7 linked regions of the Homo sapiens genome follow. The protein of the gene in region 4 interacts with the protein of the main gene of each other region in a biochemical or structural test. Each region holds a gene or a part of one and is shown on either strand. Other genes may lie near its edges. The genes, in order: JAM2, ABCA2, PARD3B, RAPGEF6, KCNT1, RPS6KA3 and CLDN3.

Region 1 (3,500 bases), on a different chromosome or scaffold from region 4:
CACACCAAGGCTATATGGTGTAGCCTATTGCTCCTAGGCTACAAACCTATACAGCATGTTACTGTACTGGATACTGTAGGCAACGGTAAACAGTTGTAAGTATTTGTGTACCTAAACATATCTAAACATGGAAAAGGTACAGTAAAAACAGCACAAAAGATAAATGGTACACCTGTGTAGAAACATATCATGAGTGGAGCTTGCAGGACTAGAAGTTGCTCTGAGTGAGTCAGTGAGTGAGTGGTGAGTGAATGTGAAGGCCTGGGACATTACTGTATACTACTGTAGACTTTATCAACACTGTACACTTAGGCTACACTAAATTTATAAAACAATAAAGTTCTTGTGTTACAGCAGTACGGGCGTTATAGCATCACTAGATGATAAGAATTTTTCAGCTCCATTATAATCTGTGGGACCACTGATATGGTTCATTGTTGACCAAAATGTCATTATGCAGTGCATGACTGCATTTGAAATGTAGTTAATTAAATCTGATCAGGAATTTAAGAAAAATGGCTCTTTGGTTTTTAAGGAAAAAATTTTTTAATCATGTGTGCTGTGTTTTCAACTTTCTGTTCAGTTCCCAACCTATAAACATGAAACAGTAGCTCTTTTGGTTACTATGTATACCTTCTTTCAATGTTATTCTCTCTCCCACACGTAAGTTTATTTTCAGTATTTGTTTCCAGTGTTTCCAGAGTTTCCCTGAGTTGTCACCCTTAGAATGGTCATTTTACTTGATTTGATATTCAGAAGAGTGGCCTTCTAAGTTCCAAAGTGTGTGAGTGTATGCATGCATCGGGTGTGGGGGGAAAGAGAGAGAGAGAGAAGGAGAGAGAGAGAGAGAGGGAGGATGGATGGATGTGTGCTCAGATAAATGCCTGCTGACAGCAACACAAAACCCTACTCTATGAATCTTCAGGCCAGTGAATGGGTAGGAAATGCTCTCCAGTTTGAATTGTTCCTACATTTTATGAGCAGAGAAGCAAATCCTGTGAAAGTATTTCAAGAGCTGCCCTCTTAGCTGTCCATTGTCTTGGCTCAGAAAGTCCTAAGGAAGAATCCTTGTAAACTTAACAGACAGGAATTTTGGTTTTTACTGGAGAGCTCTGCTTTTCTTTATCGCATGTCATCAGCATCAAATTTTTATTTGTTTTGTTGGGTTTTCTGTTTTGTTGTAGTTGTCAAAATTTTCTACTGGGATAATTTAGGACGGGCTTGTCTTTATATTTGTAAGGAGTAAAAATGCATAACCTGGTCTGTCTTCTTTATGCTAGGTTTGTCCAATTTGCTTGCTTTCATTTTGTCAATGCAGTCACCTGCTGTTTTTACTCTTCGCTTTCTTCACATTGTGAAACTTCCTAAATACATACTATGGACAAAACCAAAGATAAAAATGAATGAATTGTTAAACACATTTTCTTATATGTCTAACTAAAAATAATATATGCTTAGGGTAAATTCAAACAGAGCAGTAAGTTTACAAAACAAGAAATAAGTCTCCTTTCCAGCCTTCCTGACTCCTTTGCTTCTCAGATAGACCATCCTTAAGTTTCCTGCAAATGGTTTCAGGAAATTAGAAAAGAAATAGTTCCAGTATATATAAGCATACTCTTATAATTTCTTTAGAAATAAAGATCACAATTTATTATGCTTACTGCTGTATACCTTCCAGAAAATCAAATCATATTATATATAGTGTTGTGCACCTTGCTCCAAAAAGTTATTTATGTTAGTAATTAAGGTACAACCTAAAGCTCAGTCTACAAGCAGGACAGAAGATAACATCTTATAGAGGCCTTTAAAATTGTTGCACCAAAATGCAGTGGGAGCTATTTTCTAACTAGAACCACCAAAAATAATGGAACAAAATGATTAGTAAAACAAAGGGAAATAAACTTCCAAACCAGTAACCAAATATGGAAAGGGAAAAATTCCAAGCAAGATCCAGTTAAAAAGTCCAAAGGAGAACGTGTGTGCACCCAGAGAGGACAGAGACACTAGCACCAGCTAAGATTCACAGACAAGTGCAAAGGGGTGCTATTTTTAAAGGAGACCAAAGAGGAAATAATGACCACAAATAAAAAGGGAACATGTCAAACTTCTGGGCAAGTGCTAAATTTGAAAAGAGAGAATGGTGTTTATGTTTTTTAAAAAATGCACTAGAGGGCTGGGCGCTGTGACTCACGCCTGTAATCCCAGCACTTTGGGAGGCCAAGACGGGTGGATCACCTGAGGTCAGGAGTTTGAAACCAGCCTAGCCAACGTGGTGAAACCCTGTATCTACTAAAAGTACAAAAAGTAGCTGGGCATGGTGGCATGCACCTGTAGTCCCAGCTACTCAGGAGGCTGAGGCATGAGAATCACTTGAACGTGGGAGGCGGAGGTTGCAATGAGCTGAGATTGTGCCACTGCACTCCAGCCTGGGCAACACAGCAAGATTCTGTCTCAAAAAAAAAAATTCACTAGATGCATTTTCAAATAGGAATGGATTTTGATCAGAAGCAGAACTGACACAATGGAATAAACAATAACTCAAGTATGCATTTGTCCAATAACTGAAACATGCAGCCATCTATGTCATAAAACATTAAAATTGTACCTAAGCATATTGGAGACATGAGATTATTGTACTGTCCATATAGTGCTTTTGGATCCAGAACAAGTCAGGTTCTTTTGTGCCGTGTGTTTGTGTGTGTGTGTGTGTGTGTGTGTGTAAACGAGTGAACATCTATGCCATTTTATCTAGATACAGTACTTCTTCCCAACCTCCATTCATCTCTGTTGTTGTTGCTATTGTTCCTCATATGGCCAAATGCAATTTCTCCCTGAAGGTCTAACTCCAAAATTCCTTGCGCCTTCTCTTAATTCTTTCCAACTCATCAATTCCTCAAAGCTGATGTCTACTGTATATTATACTCTGGTGCTTTTGGTATATTCTTTATTCTCTTATGGCACTTACTGAGCTGTACTGTTACAATTTTTCCATGTATATCTCTCTGTATTGTGAGCTTGCTGGAGGCAGAGACAACACATCTTTAGGTCGTTGGTACCTAGAGTACTGCCTGGCACATTTAATACTTGATTAAGTAGAATTACATAAGCTGGAATTTAATGTTTATTTGTTTTGTAGCTTCATAAAATTATATAACTTTTTAGCAATAAAAACCTCAAGACATATGTAAAATTAATAGTCTCAAATGAATGCATAATATTACTGCTCCTAAAACTCCCTCCTCCTCTTTTTAACAGTGGCCTCCCTAAGATATAAGGAAATATAAAGACTGGTCTGCCTTATAGGATTTTAAGAAATTTTCCAGATTTCCTGATGCCTCCTTATATCCTAAAAGCACATAAGTTCCTCTTGAATTAGTAAGCATTGATTAAAAACTCAGATGAGTCAAACAATACACCCCTCAAAAGTTGCTTAATCTAGACTAGAACAAAGCACGTATTAGTGTGTTCTCACGCTGCTGTAAAGGACTGCCCAAGACTGG
Region 2 (2,252 bases), on a different chromosome or scaffold from region 4:
ACCGCACCACGTCCTTCACACTCTGGCTGCTCTTGGTCCGCACCGTGATCATGTAGCCATCTCCAAACCTGGTGGGACAGGCCGGTGGCCCGGAGCCCTGCGCCGCCCAGCCAGAGCCCCAGCCCCCCAGCCTCCCAGCCCTACAGCCCCCACAGGCACCCCAGGAAGCCCCATAGCCTCCCACAGCCCCCCAACCCCACAGCCCCCACAGCCCTCCAGGCTCCTCCCCTGGCCCCACTGCCCCAGTCCCCCCAGCCCCAGTGCCCCCAGCCCCCCTGGCCCCACAGCCCTCACAGCCCTGCAGCCACCCCCACTCCTGGCCCCGCTGCCTGGCCGCCCCCCCCGGGCCCGCCCCAGCCCACCCCTGGCCCTGCCCCGGCTCACCGGTTCTTCAGGTGCTGGATGCTGCCCAGGCACCGCAGGCGACCGTTCACCATGATGGCCAGCCGCGTGCACAGCGCCTCGCACTCCTCCATGCTGTGGGACATGCACAGGCTGGCACCGGAAGGGGTGCTGTGGGGTGGGGGCACAAAGAGGGGGTGGGGGCGCCCTCACCTGTGTGATGTCAGCACCACTGAACGCCCTGTCTTGATGAGGTCAAGGATGAGGTTCCAGAGGAAGCGCCGGGCCTTGGGGTCCATGCCTGTGGTGGGCTCGTCCTGGGGATGGGTGGCAGGCTCAGCTGCTGCCAGGCCCACACACCCCAGCCTGAACGCTGCCCCTGCCCGTGCTCACCAGGAAGTCAAAGGCCAGGCAGCCACCCCCCACCCACCCAGGACTTACCAGGAAGATGAAGGCTGGGTACCCAATGAGGGCGATGGCCGTGGAGAGCTTCCGCTTGTTGCCGCCGCTGTAGGTGCCAGCCGGCTTGTCTGCGTACTTGGTCAGCTCCAGCTTCTCCAGAGCCCACTTCACCACCTGGCCAGGGAACGCAGGTGTCAGTGGAGGCAGGGCCACCCAGCGTGCTGACTCCCTGCCCCGCCCCACAGATCCTCACCCGGGCCTCGTCCTTCCAGGAGATCCCACGCAGCCGCGTGTACAGCTGCAGGTGCTCCCGGGCCGTGAGCTCGTCGAACAGCGCGTCACACTGCGGGCAGTAGCCGAGGCTCTGCTGCACCTGGAGCAGCTCCTTCAGCACGCTGGGGACACGGCAGCTGTCAGCGCGTGAGGACGCGGCGGCCCCGCCCACCCAGGGCTCCCGCCCCACCTGTGTCCATTGACGAAGGCCTCGCCCCCCGTCGTGCTCTCGTCGCCGGTCAGCATCTTGAAGGTGCTGGTCTTGCCCGCACCGTTGACGCCCAGGAGCCCGAAGCACTCGCCAGGACGCACACCCAGGCACAGGCGGTCAACGGCCAGGATACGGCCAATCTTCCGGGACTTGTAGACCTGGCCAGGAGCCTGCCCACTCAGCGGGGCATCCTGCCCCCACCCTGCCCCTCTGGCCCCACCCCACCCAGACCCTGCCCCACCTCCAGAGCCCAGGGGGCCACGTGCCCCACAGCCCCACCCCATGCAGGCCCCACCCCCAGAGCTCAGGGCCCTGCCCACCCAGGCTCCACCTCCACTGCTGGGGCCCCACCCCCCTGGCCCTGGCCTACCCCACCCAGGCCCCACCCTACATGCCCAGAGCCCACCTTGGTCAGGTTCTCAATCTTGACCATGTCATTGTCGGCGTCTCCCCGGAGCACTCGCTGCCGCTCACTGGCCACGTCCACATCATCCTCCACAGGCTTGGTAGACACAGGCATGCGCCTTGGGGGACAGGGTGGACAGTGTCCAGCAGCTCGCCACCCCCACTGCCCCTCCCTGCCACCAGCCTCGCATCCTCTGGCTGTGGCATGTAAGAAGGGTGGGCAGGCCCCTCTGCTGTCCCCTGCCTCACCCCCTCCTGCCCCATCCCTGCCCCCACCCCCGCCCCTACCCTGCCCCACCCCCGAACCCATCCCTGCTCCCGCCCCGCCCCCGCCCCACCCCGCCCCCCACTCACTGTGGCCGCCGCAGGAAGTTGTACTGGCACATGATGGTCAGGAGGAAGCCCACGACGCCCTCAACCGCCATGGCCACCAGTCCGCGGGTGACAATGTCCCACTCGAACGGGGACTTCATCTTGTCAAACTGGCCTGCGGGGAGACAGCTCAGGGCCTGTGCTCTGGGCCTTGCGGGGCCCCCACCGCCTTCCCCGCCCCACGGGCCCCCTCACCAATCTTGGCGTAGTACTCGTTGATGTACTCGTTGTAGGCCATCTCCATGAG
Region 3 (4,106 bases), on a different chromosome or scaffold from region 4:
GCCTCAATGGAGTGCCCTCTGGATCTTCTGATTTTATGAGGTGATCAATTCTGTCTTTGGTTTATTTAAATGTAAATTAGTTTGTATTGGATTTACAACCAAATTACAATGGACTTGGTTTACGTGATCCTCTTGGTTTGCCACTGACTTTCTATACATAGAAGACAACCAATATATACTTACTGAATGTATGAATGAGCTAAAATTTATTTTTTTAAAAAACCTCTTGAAACCCATGAATTTAATCTCCTCTGCATTATCATACCATCCTAGGCAATTCACGTTCAATTTAAGTGTGTCCACATAGGAGCACATCCTTCTGTAGAGAAACACATGATGCAGCCCTGAGGGTCTTGCTGGATGAACTGGATGGCTAAGAAAACTGCAGGGAGAGACCAGAGATTGAGCTCAGAAGACCTGAGTTCTTTTCAACAGAACTAACACCATGGTCTGCTCAGTCTCTTGACCTCTCCGAGCACCATTCTTGATGCACAAGATGCGAAGAATAATATCTACCTACCGGGTAGTTGTTAAGCTCAAAGGAGCTCATTTACATGAGAGCTAAGAATGAAACTAACGTAATTTGTTGGTTTCCCCCACATATTCCCATTTCAATTGGTGATGGATACACACCTGCCAAATCATGAGCCTAAGGGTGTTAACTTTTTTTTTTCCTAATAAAATGCACAACGGTAGTCGCATTCCAGAAGGCTATGTGTCAACACACGCGATCATATCTGGGTCTTGGGTGTGACCTTTGGCCAAATACTCAGTGTCCTCGAGGGTCTGTAAAAGGAAAAGTTTCCACTGGCGCGTTCTCTCCAAGGTTCGCTTCAGCTCTGCTATCCCAGGGCTCCTGATGGCAGCGGCACGGGCTGTGCTTAAGGCGAGTTCCTAACAGGCCCTCGGGGCACTCCTGCATCTCCGCACCCGGCAGCCTCGCCCCTTGGGTGTTTTTGGTGGGCGTGACTAGAAGCACCTGCTCCTGGGCTCCTTTTGCATCTTGCTGCAGTCCCCTCCTGTGAAGGGCGCAGCTCTGCAGTCTCCTCGCTCTTCCCTCGGGTGTTCTTTCTGAGATCCGGTTTCAATCCTCGAGCGTGTAGCCCTCAGGTCCCCTTACAACTCCCCAGAGCTCCGTGTGCATGCGTGCGAGAGGGAGAGAGCCAGGGAGAGACCCAGGTGACGAGACGAGGCTCCCGGGCTCCAGTTACTGGCCCGCAGGGCCGGGGCACGTCGTCGCCCAGCGTGCGGCGGGGCCCGGGAGCGCCGCGGCCCCTTTAAGAGCCGGGCCCAGGCCGTCGCCGGGACCGCAGGAGCCCAGAGCGCGGGCGCCGCAGAGGAGTTGGGAGCCGGCGCAAAAGTTTCCTCCCAACTCTGGCCCCGTGCGCCGCCGCCGCCGCCGCCCACTCCAGCCCCCGGCTTGGGGCCGGCCCTGCCAACGCCGCCAGGGCCAGGGCCAGGGCCAGGACCAGCGACAGGGCAGGGCCGGCAGTTTCGCTTTGGTGGGCGCGGAGCAGCCGCCTGGGCCGGGCAGGAGTAGGAGCGGGAGGAGGAGGAGGAGGAGCCGGTGCCGCGGAGCTGCCGCGTCCCGGGCCGCCGGGCACCTGGGAGGTAACCCCTTTCCGCGGCCGCCCCTCCCCGATTCCCGCCACCTGCCGCCTGGCCAGGTGGAAGGGGCGCTGCCGCGAGCCTCCGGGCCTCAGGGTGTTCCGGGGAGCGGCGCCCCGGGTCTCTGGGCCCACCCGCCCCGGGCGTCCTCCGAGAGTGGGGGCTGCGCCCGCGGGGTCAGACACCTGTTCGGCCCGGCCCGGCGTGGTCGCCGGGGGCCAGGATGAAAGTGACCGTGTGCTTCGGCAGGACGGGCATCGTGGTGCCCTGCAAGGAGGGCCAGCTGCGCGTCGGCGAGCTCACCCAGCAGGCGCTGCAGCGGTACCTGAAGACCCGGGAGAAGGTGAGCGCGGCGCGGAGGAGTGGGGCGCGGCTGCAGCCAAGGCACCTGCCAGGTGCGACCCGGTGGCGACACTCAGGGGATGCAGAAAACCCAGGGGATTATGGGGCACTGCCTGTAGCTGCAGCTGTTGTCTATTGCTAATATCAGTGATGTGGGTGTCTTTGGGTGTTTGTGGGCCTTGAGCTCCGAGGGTCGTGAGTGGACCTGCAGCATTGGAATCTCTTGGGAGCTTCTTAGAACTGCCCAATATGGGCAGTTCTCCAAACCCACCGACTCAGGATCTGCTCTTTAACGAGATCCCCAGGTGATTGGAATGCCCACTGAAGTTTGAGAACCACTGGTTTAGAACTTGTTTGAGGGAACGTCTTAAAAGGTGCTGCTCACCTAAGTGTGATTTTTGACCCATTAAGGCCCGCCTCACTTAGGCTCCTTGGAGTTAGAAAGTTGATTGTGCAAGTGACACATACTCGGAAGTTACAACTGATGGGGCCTTTGGAGTTTCAGCCTTGTGAGCTGCCCTGTCTCAGTGACTTGGGCAGGAACACAGGTGGGAGCATGCTGTTTGCTTAGCCAACCTGTCTACATTTTGAGTGTTTTCAGTTTAATGTCACAGATTCTATGACCATTTACTATGTGTGTGGGCTGTTGTCAGGTCCTGAGTGACTATTAAAATGAGAAAGACGTTCCTAGCTCTGTAGCTGAAGTCAGGAACAAGTATAAATTAAGTGACAATTTTTTTTAAGTGTGCAATACATGTTGAGAAAATATCTGGCACTAGAACTTATGCCAAGTATTTGGGTAACATTGGGCCTCTGGGACTTCCTCAGTGAAACTTTTAAAGGAAGGCATTGAATAACCTTTTAATTTTTTGAATCTTCACATGGAACATTTTGTATGTCCCAAATGCTCCTCAAACAGGGCAAGTCACAAATTCTTGTTTTAGCGGCCAATGGTTCTCTTAATATTTGGTCTCGTGCCATGTGACTAAAATAGTGGGTTGGTCAATCTAGTGATGGAAAAACGTAAGTTTTAATTTCTTTTAACTTCTTATCGGTTATCCAAAGCATAAAAGTAATTGTTTCTTACAAGTGTATAGCTTAGGGGTTTAAGAAAATACTTGCACCTTCTTTGCCTCCATGAAGAATTATTATACAGAAAAAAAATTCAGCTCTGGACAGATACATGTGCATATTGCTTTGGATACTCAAGAACTGGAGGAGAGTACAATGAAAGGTCTATTAATATATTAAATATAACCCCTAAAGATGAACTCTTTACTGATGGAATTGAGGTGGAGGAGGGAAAAAATTAAAGTGGTTTATAAAGCTGTGTGAAAATCAACTGCAATGTTATGTGTGTGTGTGCACGTGCATATGTGTTTGCCATTGTTAAAATAGTGTTTGCTGTTTAAATCATGTAATTCAGTTAACTGATGTTTAAACAAGTAACCAATTGTCTATTAAATCATATTTCACTAACTTTTGAAAGTGAGCTAAGATTAATAGTAACAACATTACTCCAGACAGATTATTGAAATAGATCTCATTGAGGGATTGTCTTACCAAATTGAAGTTACTTTTTAACTATTAAATAATTTATGCCCTCAAATCTTGTATATTTAGAAGTTTAGTACAGGGGGCTATCCAAGTAAGAGATAAACTACAAGCTTGTAAATAACATGAAGAGAACTAACCAGCTGATATTTAATTCACTATAATTTGATCTTAAAAGGTGTTAAAATATTGACATTCTGGAATGGAAACGTAACTTATAATATCACAGAACAATGTAGTTGCATTGATCAGTTTACTATTATTACCAGACTTATATTTTTCTGTTTACATTTATATATTAGTGAATGTGACATTTAAAGGTCACCTGCAGCATATAAATCCTTCCTCTTATTTTCACTTTTAAAATTTCATTTTAAGAAGTAGTAGGTGATGATTTTTCCCCTCCCCAAGTATTCTTCTCCCATAGTTTTATTTTAAATAATATTGTAATCATAACAAGATTTAACGAATATTAAATCGTATTCATAATGGCACTAAAAGGTCAATAAATACCCTAACAAATTCCATGCTTTTATTCATTTTTTTTAAATGAGAAAAGGCCAGAAATGTCAAAATTCAATTTGAAAAACAATGTGTAGTAA
Region 4 (3,500 bases):
CTGGCTAATTTTTATATTTTTAGTACAGACAGGGTTTCACCATGTTGGCCAGGCTGGTCTTGAATTCCTGAGCTCAAGTAATCTGCCTGCCTTGGCTTCCCAAAGTGCTGAGATTACAGGCATGAGCCACCATGCCAAGCCAACAATCCTTTATTTGGCATAGCACACAGTGATACACTTTGGTACAAATCTGTTTGAGACAGGAGAGAAGGGAGACACTCTGAGTTGTAAGCAGCCCTAATGCTGCCACAATCTCCATTTACTAAGAAAAAGTAAAGGATAAAACAATTCACATACAAGGCTAACTCCTGCTACCGTGGAATACTGCTGCATGGATCCACTTATATGCAGATTTTTTTCAATAAATTCAGTCACCCCTCCGTATCTGAGTGTTCCACATTCACAACCAAATGTGGATCAAAAATACAGTTTCCTTGGATGTGAAACCTGCTAATGCTGACTTTATGTATCCACAAGTTCCTCAGGGTCAACTGCAGGACTTGAGTATGTGAGGATTTTGCTATCTGTGAGGAGCCATGGAACGAATGCCCCACAGATACTGAGGGACAATGGTATCATTTAATATGAAGCACCAGCAGATGAAAATAGACAAAATAGAGAAATAGTTATTAATAAATGGAATGAGAGATGTAAAGTTATCATCAGTTGAAGAAAATTAGATTGTTTAACTCAAAACTCCCAAAATATTAACTGAAAATTATTAGAAGCATGAAGAATGCAGTAAGGTACTAGGTACAACACTGATATTCATATGCATTAGAATACTTAGGCAGAAACCATTAGAAAACTTAAGGATCCCATTCATAATATAAGGATCCCATTCACAACAGCAATAAAAGATATTAAACATTCAAACAAATGTTCAAGATTTACATGAACACCACTATAAAAACTGATATGGTTTGGTTCTGTGTCCCCACCCAAATTTCACGTGGAATTGTAATCCCCACATGTCAGGGGAAGGACGCAGTGGGAGGTGACTGGGTCATGGAGGCAGATTTCCCCTACGCTGTTCTCATGATAATCAGTGAGTTCTCAAGAGATCTGATGGTTTAAAAGTGTGGCACTTCCCCCCTCACTCTCTCTCTCTCTGCTGCCATGTAAGACACGCCATGTTTGCCCTTCGCCTTCCACTATGATAGTAAGTTTCCTAAGGCCTCCCCAGACATGGGGAACTGTGAGTTAATTAAACCTCTTTTCTTTATAAATTACACAGTCTCAGGTATTTCTATACAGCAGTGTGAAAACAGACTAATAAAACAACTCCACAGAGGAAATAAAAGAAAACTGAAACAAGTGGAATAAGTGTTCTTGGATGGCAAGAGCCATTGTTACAAAGCTATCAAATGTCCACTAAAGTAATCTAGGTATTTAATGTAATCTCAATGAAAACATCAACAGAACTTTTTCTTTTCTTTTTTGAGACAGAGTCTTGCTCTGTCACCCAGGCTGGAGTGCAGTGGCATGATCTTGGCTTACTGCAACCTCCACCTCCTGGGTTCAAGTGATTCTCCTGCCTCAGCCTCCTGAGTAGCTGGGATTACAAGCATGTGCCACCATACCTGGCTAATTTTTTTGTATTTTTAGTAGAGATGGGGTTTCACCATGTTGGTCAGGCTGGTCTAGAACTCCTGAACTTGTGATCCACCTGCATTGGCCTCCAAAGTGCCAGGATCACAGGCGTGAGCCACCGCGCCCAGACATCAACAAAACTTTTTAAAAGAACTACATAAATTGATTCTAAAGTTGATATGAAACAAATAAACATGCCAGAAATAGCCAAAGAAAAGTATGAAGAGAGTCATAAGGGGTTTGACTAGCCCTATCAGACCTTAAAACCTATTTTACCACTTCAGCAACTAAAACAGTAAATGAATAGACAAATCAATGAAGCAATGAGTGCAGACATAAACCCAAATATGTGTTAGATTTCAGTACATAATAGATGGCATTGCATATTTTAGAAAAAAAGATTGATTAATGATGTTGGGTGAAGAAGTCATTTGGAACAAAGAAAGATATATTTCTTTATCTCACTGTTTACATAAAAATGAATTCAAGATTAATAAAAAATGTTGTCTAGGGTGTTCTAAGAGCTCTCATTGTATTAGCTCATTGAATACTCTTAACCTTATTAGGTAGGAACTACCAGGATTTCCCATTTGACAAATGAGGAAACTTAGTTCACATAGACAACAAGTGCCAACACTGGATTCAAACCTAGGCAATTCTTTGTTCTTAACTAACCACAAAATGCAGAAACTCCAGCAGGAAAAAAAATAATACATCTACATAAAAATAAAAAAATTTCTACATGGCAAAAGTAAACACCACACACTGTTTTAAATAGCCAAAGTCTGGAAATTTAGAAATATCCATAATGTGCACTCCACAATACAAAGGAGTACTTCATAGTTGTTTAAAAAATATGAGACAACTTTATAAGAACTGATTTTAAATAATCTCCAAGATAAATTAAAAAAATTAGCCAAGGTGGTTTTAAATATATATTTATATGCTTGCTATATGGATAGAGTATTTCTTGAATGAAAAAAGGTAACAGTATCTCTGGGGAGAGGAATTTGGGTGGATTAGGGACTGGGTGAGACAAAGTTACTTTCGCTGTGTACTCTTTATCTTTAAAATTTTTTCCATGTACATGTCATGTCTATTCAAAAAGTTAAAATTATTTTATAATTATAAAAAGTTGTTAATTATAGCCAGAACAGAATGATTCACCTTTGCCATCTCTGCTGAAAAGAGTATATTCTTTGATCTACCTGAACATGAAGTACAAGAATACAAAACAATTATCTTAAAAAGAATACAAAAGAAACAAAGCAATGATCTTTACATGAGCTATGAAAATGTGCAGAACAAATATTCTTTGTAACAAAACAAATCTTTTAACCAAACAAAGCCTCTTAACCAAATCTCAGCCCTTTCCTATCCACTCCCTTCTTTGGGCTACTGTCCATCACATCTTCTCTCAAATCACTCTCTTTCATTGGCTTTGATGACACTATCATAACTGTGCTACTCTGTTTCTTGTACTGATCCTCCATCTCTTTGGCTAGACTCTTTTTCCTTACCCTCACACTGAGTCATCATACTAAGGTATGGTTTTTAGACCTCTACCACTTTCTTTCTACCCTCTTTTTTATACAGAGATCTATTCTCTCAGTGTCAATCAATTTTCTTCATAGTGGACTCTAAAACTGAGCCCGTAATTTTCAAATTCTTTACTTGATGCTTCCTTTACAAACAGGTTCCATTTCTAGCCTTCCAAGTGTTTATCAGTGGCATCTTTATTCCTCTGTTTTAGACTTAGCTGTTTAAAAACTGTGATATAGGTGGTATTTTACAGATAAGAAAACCTATCTTCAGTTTTCCACTGACACATTGCTACTATATGGGAGAGGCAGGATTCAAATACAGGTGCAGCTGATTCTAAAGACCACTCTGTTAATCTCTATTCA
Region 5 (3,500 bases), on a different chromosome or scaffold from region 4:
TGGGTGGCACCTTCAGAAAGGCCTGGGAGGCTGGGGGCTGGTCAGGCCAGATGGGCATGGGGGCTGCCTGCCTTGGTGGGGCCTGGGAGGGGGCGGGGGTGCACCTGGTGTCCAAACTCACAGGCTACTCCCCCCAGGCCTCAGCTTCCCCACCACCAGTGCAGGAGGGAGTGAGTGTCAACAGCCTTCTCTGAGCCGTGCTGGGGCCGACACATCCGTGGGACCCGCTCCTGCCTCGGCTTTCCCAGGGCCCTGTGGGTGGGTGGGTGGGTGGGGCCTGGCAGGCTTCTCCATGTGAAGCTGCGATGTTCTGGTGCTCCGCAGAAGCTGCGTGGGCACGGAGGGGTTGCTTACCTGGGCTCTGAGGTCGTGGGGCTGCAAAGGAAACAGGCGCAGTCTGGGACCTGTGGGCGCACCCCTGCCCCCCACGCCGCCTCAGCCTGGGGTCTGCACGGAACATGCTTAGGGCTGGTGGGCACGGTGCCTGCTGCTGTGTGGACTGCAGCACAGGGGCTGCCCGTATTCTTCCTGAAGACTCCCCTGAGCCTCTCTGCCCCCGGTAGGGGTCATGGCTGCTCCAGCTGGAAGCGCTACACGTGGGCACACGGACCAGACGGAAGGAGCTGCCAGCAATAGCAAAGCTGATCTAGCCCAGGTCCCTGACACTGAAGGTGGGGATGCTGTGGGTCACACAGGACAGGGGCTGCCACAGTCCCAGCCCCCGGAAGGTGGGGATGCTGTGGGTCACACAGGACAGGGGCTGCCACAGTCCCAGCCCCCAGGCTGCCCCAGAACCTCCGAGGTGGAGAAGACGTGGCTCTCTGTCCGGTAGATGCCAATGGGGATCTCGGCGCTGGAGGAGCAGAGCTTCTGGAAGAGGCGGCCGTACGTGCGGATCCACAGGTCGCCCTCGGTGATTTTCATCTGCAGGGTGGGAACCCTGAGTTGGCTGGGGCAGGTGGCAGCACCCAGAGCCTCCTGGCCACCGTGAATCAGGGGCAGGTGCCCATCCACCCACTTGGACAGCCCAGCACGCCCCCAGCCCAGCGCAGCCAGGGGCACTTACGGCACAGAGGTACCCCGAGCCCGGCGTGGTGTCCAGGCCCAGCAGCAGCCGGGTGATGGTGATCATGTAGTCCTTCACGAAGGACTGGCCAGGGAGGGAGGGAGGGAGGGAGGGAGGGAGGGAGGGAGGGAGGGAGCCACAGTGAGGCACGCGGGCACGGGCGTGGGACACAGGTCCATACCCCACCGGCCACGGGCTCGCCACCCCTCATGCATACACACACACAGAACCACCAGGTCCCCAAGCACCACATGACCCACAGGCAGAGTTCTGGGAGGCCTTTTCTAAGAAAACTCCCTTGCCAGGCACCCATAGGTCAAAAAGGGCCCAGAAATCCCTGGGGCAAGGACAGGGCCCAGAGGTCTCCTTGGAATCCAGGGAAGGTCATTCAGAGGGAGTCCTATCATTCAGAACAGGGACCAGGCTGAAGAGCTGAGGGCATGACGGGGGTCCCACCCAGGCGCCACCCTCCTGCTGCCGCTTCCCCGCTGACCTGGTAGAGCAGTGTGTCCAACATGCTGATGCTGAAGACGCGGCCGGCGGCGAACGGCAGGCGGAACATGAAGGCCAGGTTGGAGCCATTCTCTCGCTCCCTCTGTGGGAAAGGAGGGGCCTCAGATGGGCTGGTGCCGAGGTCCCTCCAGTGGCACGGCAGCCACGGGGTCGAGGGCACTGTGTGTGCACCGTACATGTGTGCATGATACCTGTGTGCACATTTGTGCATGGTGTGTGTGTCCACGTGTACACAGTGTGTGTCTGCATGTGTGCATACACCGGCAGGCCTGAACCAGCTCTATCTTCCCAGACACACTCAGGGCCAGAGCCCGGGAGGAGTGATGTGGGGCTCTGATGAGAAGGTGGACTCCCGGCGGCTGCCATGGGCACTGCGCTTGGTCAAGCGCCCTGCTCTTGCCATCCCGAAATTCCAAATCCTCCTGATAATCCTCTCCTCCCCCGGTGTTTTGTAAGTGGTGCCGGAGGGCGTGTGGAGTCTGGGCTGAGGAGGAGCAAGCATCGGGCTCCCTGCTGTCCTTGGCCTCCCCGTCCCTGTGCTCCAGGCTTGCAATGGACCCACTGAGTTTCCTGGGGCTCCCGTAACAAATGACCGCAAACTTAGCAGCTAAAACGACACCTGTCTCCTCTCTCCCGTTTCTGGAGTCGGGAGTTTGAGGTGTCTCAGGCTGGATCCAGGCCTGGGCAGGGCCCCGCTCCCTCTGGAGGCCTGGGGGCCTCCTTCTCTTGCCTTTTCCAGCTCCTGGAGGCCACCTGCCTTGGCTTGTGGCTCCCTCTTCCCTCTTCTGAGCTGGCCGTGCAGCTTCTTCCCACCGGATGGGGACCTCTGGCCTCTCCCTAGAAGGACCCTGACGGCGTGAACCTGCCGGATGCTCCAGGAGGATCTCCCATCTCGAGGCCCGTGACTTAATCCCATCTGCAGAGGCCCTTCTGTCACGTGAGGCGGTACATCCACGGGCTCCGGACCCGGCCGTGGCCAACTCTCGGGTCATTCTTCAGCGGAGGGCCCCAACCCTGGAGCTCGGCCTCCAAGCAAGTGTGCACAGGCAGGCGTGTGCGCCCACGGAGGCCACACTTCCCCCCGGAACCAGAACTCGATTCACAGGTAAAAGACACGACAGCGACAGGACAAGCAGGCAGAAGCCCCTTTTCCTCCGGGTTCGCCCTTACTCATCAGTGGCCGGTGGGAAGGCTGGGGCGTGAGAAACAGTGGAATTAGTTTCGTGCGGCGTTTCCGCTCTTGGGGCAAGAACCAGGTGCGATGAGCTGCGATGGGCGTGTGAGTTTGCAATCGTGGTGATTTGCATCCAGAATTCCAGCCGTACTTCGCGGAGACGAACGTGAAATTCCAGAACAACTTGCAATTTTAATTTTCCTTTACTCAGAACAACGCTAAACAGGAAACAAGAACCACGACAGGGCCAGAGAGAGACGTGGAAGGAAAGAAAAAGCTGGACGTTTCAGGACCTTCCAGAGATTTCCTCCTGCTTTCTGGACAGGAGGGCTTCAGCAGGGGCTGAGCGGGTGCCATTCACAAGTGACAGTGAAGACAGGAGCACACAGGAGCGGATGAGCCCTTCCTGAGCACGAGACCCCCGGTCAGAGGGAGCAGGACAGGCACCGTGCAGCCCCAGGATGGGCAGAGCCAGCCTGAAGGAAGGCTCCTGGTGAGGAGGAGAGATCACACAGGCTGACCATGTGAAAGCAATGAAGTGGTGGAGGAGTCCTGGGTGCTGGAGACCAGGGGAGGTGGACGGCAGGGGAGGTGGGCCTCAGGGGAGAGACTCCTCTCACACACCGGGGCTCTGAGAGCCTTCTGGAGCCAGCCCTCAAGGGGAGATGCATGTCACCCCACCAGCAGCATCCTTAATAATAGTTTCATTTTTTTGCTTGGTTTTTTTTGAGACAGGGTCTCGCTCTG
Region 6 (3,500 bases), on a different chromosome or scaffold from region 4:
GATAATACCGAAGTCTCTCTATATTTTTTCCTAGATATATATACCTATGATATAGTTTAATTTATAAATTAGGCACAGTAAGAGATTAACAATGACTAATAATAAATTAGAACACTTGTAACAATATACTGTAATAAAAGTTATATGAATGTGGTCTCTCAAAATACTGTAATATTTTTGACAATGGTTGACTGTGGTAACTGAAACCACAGAAAGCAAACTTGCAGATTAGTGGGGGACTACTGTACTTTTTTATCATAAGCTTCTCTGACATTCCTTTTTAGACTTAAGTGTGCCTTCTGTCACCAAATTCTGAGTCTGTGTTCCAATCAATCAAATTAGATTTAGTTCCTCACATCCAGGACATCACTTCTCCAGACTATTTTAATAACGAATTACTGATGAGGCATTGGGAAAAGAACACAGAAGACTTTGATGACTGCAAGGTCATAAGTTCCTCAGTGACTACTGAGTTCTACTAATTTCAAGTTACAATACTAGGCAAATCTTGATAAGTTAGAAGTCAGGAAGCTCCAGAATTAACACATTCTACTTGGCTTTCAGGGGCAAAGACAAAACAAAAAGAATGTATTGAAACTGAACTCCTTAAGAAGTAATCTTTTATATATGCATGTATCAAAACATCATGTTGTATACCATGAATATACATAATTTGTCAACTAAAAAATTTTTAAAAAATTGTTTATTTTCCCCTTGCTTTCTGCTCCTCTGCTTCACTCCTCTGCTGTTCTCCTTTCCTCCCTCCCTCCCCTCATTTTCTCCTTTCCTCCCAGACTTCCCTTCTTTTTTTTTTTTTTTTTTTTTTGAGATGGAGTCTCACTCTGTTGCCCAGGCTGGAGTGCAGTGGTGCAATTTCAACTCACTGCAACCTCCGCCTCTCGGGTTCAAGCAATTCTCCTGCCTCAGCCTTCTGAGTAGCTGGGATTACAGGCATGAGCCATGACGCCCGGCTAATTTTTGTACTTTTAACAGAGACAGGGTTTCGCCATGTTGGCCAGGCTGGTCTCAAACTCCTGACCTCAGGTGATCCACCCACCTTGGCCTCCCAAAGTGCTGGGATTACAGGCGTGAGTCACTGCACCCGGCCGCCTTGTTTTAAAAATACGATTTTCTCGAACTCCTGACCTCAAGTGATCTGCCTGCCTCGGCCTCCCAAAATGCTGGGATTACAGGCATAAGCTACCGTGCCCAGCCTAGAAATACAATTTTCTTTTGCTGTTTACTAAAAATCTGCATACAAGAAGAACGAAGAGCATATCCACCAGCCGAAGCATGTGACTCCTTGGCCTCATTGTTTTAAGGATTTCCTTTTATACATGAATACAAACCAGGATTCCTTGGTTCTGCTTCTAACCTGAAGTGGGCCTGGTTTTCATGAGTACAGAGTGACCTAGCAGAAACAATGCTATGTTTTCCAGGTCGGAAGAGATCACTTACTTTTTCTTGGAAGCACAAGAGTTTAACATAAACAAGCTAGGATATCAAAGGTACACTTCAATCTCAATAATAAAAGTTTATATAGAGGAAGGTCAGTAGGATAATTCAGCTAATAGCAGTTATTTTCCATTTCAGGCATAAAGTAATTTCTATCTAATTCTAGCTCAAACATAAAGGAAAAAAGTGTGTGTATGTACATATAGAGTGGTAAAAAGACTTACCCCTTGTGCGTGAAGATATTCAACGGTTTTAGTTATAGTGAACAGGACAGCACTGGCCTCTCGTTCAGAGAAAAATTTTTGTCTAAGAATTTTATCCAGCAATTCACCTCCTTTCATAAGTTCTGTTACTACATACACATACTTTCCATCATCATATACCTATAAATTTCAACATCAAAATGTAAATATTATTTGAAACTATATGTGCCCAAAACGAAGTTTAAAATATAAAGGAAAAATTAAACTCACTTCATATTCAAGACAAATTTTATTTATTTATTTATTTTGAGACAGACTCTGTCGCCCAGGAGTGCACTGGCACAATCTTGGCTCACTGCAATATCCACTTCCTGGGCTCCAGCGATCCTCCCACTTCAGCCTCTCAAGTAGCTGGGACTATAGGCGCATGCCACCACACCTGGCTAATTTTTGCATTTTTTGTAGAGACGAGCTTTTGCTGTGTCTCCATGAGCAGGGATAATCTGAGGAAATTTGAGTTTTGACAACCCCCAGATAAGGCCTTTGGGCCTATTGAGCATCATTAGCAAGAGAAGACTTAACACTACCTGGGGAGTTCACACTGTTTGCCAACACTTTGTTATAATAAAAGTCAAGAGAGACATAGGCAACAGGGTTATCATGACAGTCCAGGGAAAGATACTTTACTTGTCCTGGGGGTGGCAATGGGCAGGGCAGGCTTCCTGGAAGAAGCAGTGCCTTAGCAAAATCTTATATGTGTGGTAGTTAGCCAGGTAAAGAAAATAGATGGTGTTGGCAACTGAGGGAACTATAAATTCAGACATAACAGCATGGAAAATGAGGCATGCGCAAGAAATTTACATACTAGAACACAGAGCATCAGGTGTATGAGAAAGGGTGTGTGAGAAGTCTGAAAACTACAGAGGAAGGCAGGGTCTTAAGCGGCTGGGGACTTTAGACTGTAGGCAGGGAAGTTAAATGGGTAGTTATGAGTGTTAGATCTCTTTTCTAGTAATGTGGAAGATACTTTGGGGTAGTCTGGAGAGTGAGACTAGTCAATATTGAATATGAACTAATAGTAATATTAACACTGAACATTTAGGTAAGTGTTCAAGTAAGTGCAGATATTAAAAGCAATAATATCGTAAGTACTTTTCTTCTTAAAGCAAAAGTAGAAAAAAATAACTGTACAAACATATCTTTATTGATAAATGAAATTATGCCATATACACATATAAATTGTTTTCAAATCTACTTTTTAAACTTACCATGTTGAATTTTGTTTTGTTTTGTTTTTGTTTTTGAGACAGGGTCTTGCTCTGCTGCGCTGGCTGGAGTGCAGTGGTGCGATAACTGCTCACTGAGGTCTTGACCTGCCGGGCTGAAGCAATCCTCCCACCTCAGCCTCCAGAGTAGCTGCGACTATAGGCATGAGCCACCATGTCAGGCTAATTTTTAAATATTCTTTAGAGACAGGGTCTCCCTATGTTGCCCAGGCTGGTCTTGAACTCCTGGGCTCAAGCAATCCTCCTGCCTCAGCCTCCCAAAGTACTGGGATTACAGGTGTGAGCCACTGTGCTCGGCCTGGCTAATTAAAAAAAAATTTTTTTTTGTAGAGATGGAGATCTCACTGTGTTGACCTGGCTGGTCTTGAACTCCTGGCCTCAAGTGATCCTCCTGCCTTGGCCTCCCAAACTGCTGGGATTACAGGCGTGGGCCACTGTGCCCAGCCTATGATGAGTTCTTTGTCTACCACATGATTTTTGAAAATACACTACTTTCAATGTGAGTTAGACAACTGATTCAAATGATCCATATTAAAGAATCTACTTACATCCTTTA
Region 7 (2,908 bases), on a different chromosome or scaffold from region 4:
TTTTTTTTTTTTTTTTTTAAACAGGGTCTGCTCTGATGCCCAGGCTGGAGTGCAGTGGTGCGATCATAGCTCACTGCAGCCTCGAACTCCTGGGCTCAAGTAATTTCCTGCCTGAGCCTCCGGAGTAGTTGGGACTATAGGCACACGCCACCACACCTGGCTAGTTTTTTAATTTTTTGTAGAGACGGGGTCTCACTATTTTGCCCAGGCTGGTGTCGAACTCCTGGTCTCAAGCAATCCTCCCTTCTCAGCCTCCCAAAGTGCGAGGATTACAGGAGTCAGCCACCACGGTGCTCGGTCCTGCCCGATTTCCCACTTTTGCGGAGATCGAACCTCTTTCACCACCATTTCATTAAGGTGGGCCTCAGCCCTGACTCAGGCTCAAAGGGAGGGAGGACAGGGCTCGGAGAGGGGAGGGGACTCAATGGGAGGAGGGGGACTTCTGGGAGGGGAGAGCAGCTTAGCTAAAGGCATGCAGGCTCACGGCCAGCGATGGGAACTGGAGGGAGAGCTGGAGAGGAATTTGAGCTTAGTTAGGCTTAAGGGCATCTTTTGGGTACCTTTGCGCAGGCAGTCCCTGGCTTCTGGGCCCAGCAATTCCTGGGCTGGACAACCCCACCGCCCGGACTCAGGCTGAGCCTGTGCGACGTGTGTACGGGAGGGGCAGAGCAGCAGGTGCGCGGCTCCTGCAAACAGCCGCGGCCACGCCCACCCTGGTCCTCCCCGCCCCGCCGTTCCGGGGTAATTGGCAGCGCCCCCATCCCCACGCGGCACGTGCCAAAAGCGCCCAAAGTGGTGAGGAGAGAGAAGCCGTGTCAAATTCTTTGGGATTTGCACCCCAAGCCCCTGACGCATCCCGTCCTCGGTTTTGCCCCGGAGAATTCATTCCCGAGCAGAGAGGGACAAGGACCGAGGGGCGGGGGCTGGGTCAGGTCCCGCCCTTCCTTGGCAACCCCCCTACCCCGGCGTTGTGGGCCGCGCAGGGCCAAGTCCTTCCTCCCAGGACGCTCGGTGAAGGTGGGAGGCAGGGGCCACGTCACTGTCCTTAGGCCCTGGAGAGCGCGGCTCCGCCCCTACCGCCCCCACCGGAGCGCTGGGCACTTAGCTAAGACGCACCGGCCCCAGCCCAGGGCCAGCCCAGTCGCCGCCGCCCGCCCACAAAGCCACAGGCAGGTGCAGGCGCAGCCGCGGCGAGAGCGTATGGAGCCGAGCCGTTAGCGCGCGCCGTCGGTGAGTCAGTCCGTCCGTCCGTCCGTCCGTCGGGGCGCCGCAGCTCCCGCCAGGCCCAGCGGCCCCGGCCCCTCGTCTCCCCGCACCCGGAGCCACCCGGTGGAGCGGGCCTTGCCGCGGCAGCCATGTCCATGGGCCTGGAGATCACGGGCACCGCGCTGGCCGTGCTGGGCTGGCTGGGCACCATCGTGTGCTGCGCGTTGCCCATGTGGCGCGTGTCGGCCTTCATCGGCAGCAACATCATCACGTCGCAGAACATCTGGGAGGGCCTGTGGATGAACTGCGTGGTGCAGAGCACCGGCCAGATGCAGTGCAAGGTGTACGACTCGCTGCTGGCACTGCCACAGGACCTTCAGGCGGCCCGCGCCCTCATCGTGGTGGCCATCCTGCTGGCCGCCTTCGGGCTGCTAGTGGCGCTGGTGGGCGCCCAGTGCACCAACTGCGTGCAGGACGACACGGCCAAGGCCAAGATCACCATCGTGGCAGGCGTGCTGTTCCTTCTCGCCGCCCTGCTCACCCTCGTGCCGGTGTCCTGGTCGGCCAACACCATTATCCGGGACTTCTACAACCCCGTGGTGCCCGAGGCGCAGAAGCGCGAGATGGGCGCGGGCCTGTACGTGGGCTGGGCGGCCGCGGCGCTGCAGCTGCTGGGGGGCGCGCTGCTCTGCTGCTCGTGTCCCCCACGCGAGAAGAAGTACACGGCCACCAAGGTCGTCTACTCCGCGCCGCGCTCCACCGGCCCGGGAGCCAGCCTGGGCACAGGCTACGACCGCAAGGACTACGTCTAAGGGACAGACGCAGGGAGACCCCACCACCACCACCACCACCAACACCACCACCACCACCGCGAGCTGGAGCGCGCACCAGGCCATCCAGCGTGCAGCCTTGCCTCGGAGGCCAGCCCACCCCCAGAAGCCAGGAAGCCCCCGCGCTGGACTGGGGCAGCTTCCCCAGCAGCCACGGCTTTGCGGGCCGGGCAGTCGACTTCGGGGCCCAGGGACCAACCTGCATGGACTGTGAAACCTCACCCTTCTGGAGCACGGGGCCTGGGTGACCGCCAATACTTGACCACCCCGTCGAGCCCCATCGGGCCGCTGCCCCCATGCTCGCGCTGGGCAGGGACCGGCAGCCCTGGAAGGGGCACTTGATATTTTTCAATAAAAGCCTTTCGTTTTGCACTCGCTGGAGCCTCCTTGTTCCCAGCGCCTCCACCTCCCTGCAGAGCTCCCCCTCGGGGCGGCCTTGGCTGGATCTCGCTCTCCCGGATGGAGCTTAGAGGGAAGATGGGGTTGTAAGCTGAGCTTGGTGATGGCGGGGTGGTCACTTGCCCACTCCCTGGGGATTCGGAAGACAGCCTGTGAGGCCAAAGCCAGCGCCCAATCTAGGAAGCAGGCATGAGCACTTTCCGCACGCCATGGCTGGGGATGGGAGGGGAAGGTGGCAGAGATGTGCCCCTGGGTCTGTGCTGGGAGCCCGGACCCCGCACAATACCCGACACATTCGGAATCTCCCGTGCGCCTTGTGAAAGAGCGCATTCCGTACTGCCATTTCCTATTGGAAAAACGAAAACAAAAAGACCTATTGTTTGGATAAAACACGCCACCAAAAGTAAAACCGGGCCAAATCTTCTCACCTGGGGGAGAGATGAGAAAGGGTCCCCATCTCCTTCCTGGGACCC

The links.
Region 1: the proteins of RAPGEF6 (region 4) and JAM2 interact in a test that uses a peptide from one of them, tested with the Homo sapiens proteins (one large-scale study listed by IntAct).
Region 2: the proteins of RAPGEF6 (region 4) and ABCA2 interact in a test that uses a peptide from one of them, tested with the Homo sapiens proteins (one large-scale study listed by IntAct).
Region 3: the proteins of RAPGEF6 (region 4) and PARD3B interact in a test that uses a peptide from one of them, tested with the Homo sapiens proteins (one large-scale study listed by IntAct).
Region 5: the proteins of RAPGEF6 (region 4) and KCNT1 interact in a test that uses a peptide from one of them, tested with the Homo sapiens proteins (one large-scale study listed by IntAct).
Region 6: the proteins of RAPGEF6 (region 4) and RPS6KA3 interact in a test that uses a peptide from one of them, tested with the Homo sapiens proteins (one large-scale study listed by IntAct).
Region 7: the proteins of RAPGEF6 (region 4) and CLDN3 interact in a test that uses a peptide from one of them, tested with the Homo sapiens proteins (one large-scale study listed by IntAct).

The regions. Positions count from the first base shown.
Region 1 is NC_000021.9:25,645,758-25,649,257, forward strand, and holds part of JAM2 (junctional adhesion molecule B isoform 1 precursor), read left to right. Parts: exon of another isoform or gene 1-1,375; intron 1,376-3,500. UniProt on the Homo sapiens protein: Junctional adhesion protein that mediates heterotypic cell-cell interactions with its cognate receptor JAM3 to regulate different cellular processes. Plays a role in homing and mobilization of hematopoietic stem and progenitor cells within the bone marrow.
Region 2 is NC_000009.12:137,008,986-137,011,237, forward strand, and holds part of ABCA2 (ATP-binding cassette sub-family A member 2), read right to left. Parts: coding exon 2,201-2,252; intron 2,121-2,200; coding exon 1,988-2,120; intron 1,753-1,987; coding exon 1,635-1,752; intron 1,387-1,634; coding exon 1,208-1,386; intron 1,140-1,207; coding exon 998-1,139; intron 919-997; coding exon 784-918; intron 660-783; coding exon 556-659; intron 478-555; coding exon 385-477; intron 69-384; coding exon 1-68. UniProt on the Homo sapiens protein: Probable lipid transporter that modulates cholesterol sequestration in the late endosome/lysosome by regulating the intracellular sphingolipid metabolism, in turn participates in cholesterol homeostasis.
Region 3 is NC_000002.12:204,544,169-204,548,274, forward strand, and holds the start of PARD3B (partitioning defective 3 homolog B), read left to right. Parts: upstream 1-1,306; 5' UTR 1,307-1,831; coding exon 1,832-1,951; intron 1,952-4,106. UniProt on the Homo sapiens protein: Putative adapter protein involved in asymmetrical cell division and cell polarization processes. May play a role in the formation of epithelial tight junctions.
Region 4 is NC_000005.10:131,457,230-131,460,729, forward strand, and holds part of RAPGEF6 (rap guanine nucleotide exchange factor 6), read right to left. Parts: intron 1-3,500. UniProt on the Homo sapiens protein: Guanine nucleotide exchange factor (GEF) for Rap1A, Rap2A and M-Ras GTPases. Does not interact with cAMP.
Region 5 is NC_000009.12:135,782,185-135,785,684, reverse strand, and holds part of KCNT1 (potassium channel subfamily T member 1), read right to left. Parts: intron 1,662-3,500; coding exon 1,560-1,661; intron 1,151-1,559; coding exon 1,067-1,150; intron 925-1,066; coding exon 796-924; intron 376-795; coding exon 355-375; intron 1-354. UniProt on the Homo sapiens protein: Sodium-activated K(+) channel. Acts as an important mediator of neuronal membrane excitability. Contributes to the delayed outward currents. Regulates neuronal bursting in sensory neurons. Contributes to synaptic development and plasticity.
Region 6 is NC_000023.11:20,165,910-20,169,409, forward strand, and holds part of RPS6KA3 (ribosomal protein S6 kinase alpha-3), read right to left. Parts: coding exon 3,493-3,500; intron 1,839-3,492; coding exon 1,680-1,838; intron 1-1,679. UniProt on the Homo sapiens protein: Serine/threonine-protein kinase that acts downstream of ERK (MAPK1/ERK2 and MAPK3/ERK1) signaling and mediates mitogenic and stress-induced activation of the transcription factors CREB1, ETV1/ER81 and NR4A1/NUR77, regulates translation through RPS6 and EIF4B phosphorylation, and mediates cellular proliferation, survival, and differentiation by modulating mTOR signaling and repressing pro-apoptotic function of BAD and DAPK1.
Region 7 is NC_000007.14:73,768,497-73,771,404, reverse strand, and holds CLDN3 (claudin-3), read left to right. Parts: upstream 1-1,134; 5' UTR 1,135-1,355; coding exon 1,356-2,018; 3' UTR 2,019-2,408; downstream 2,409-2,908. UniProt on the Homo sapiens protein: Barrier-forming claudin. Plays a major role in tight junction-specific obliteration of the intercellular space, through calcium-independent cell-adhesion activity.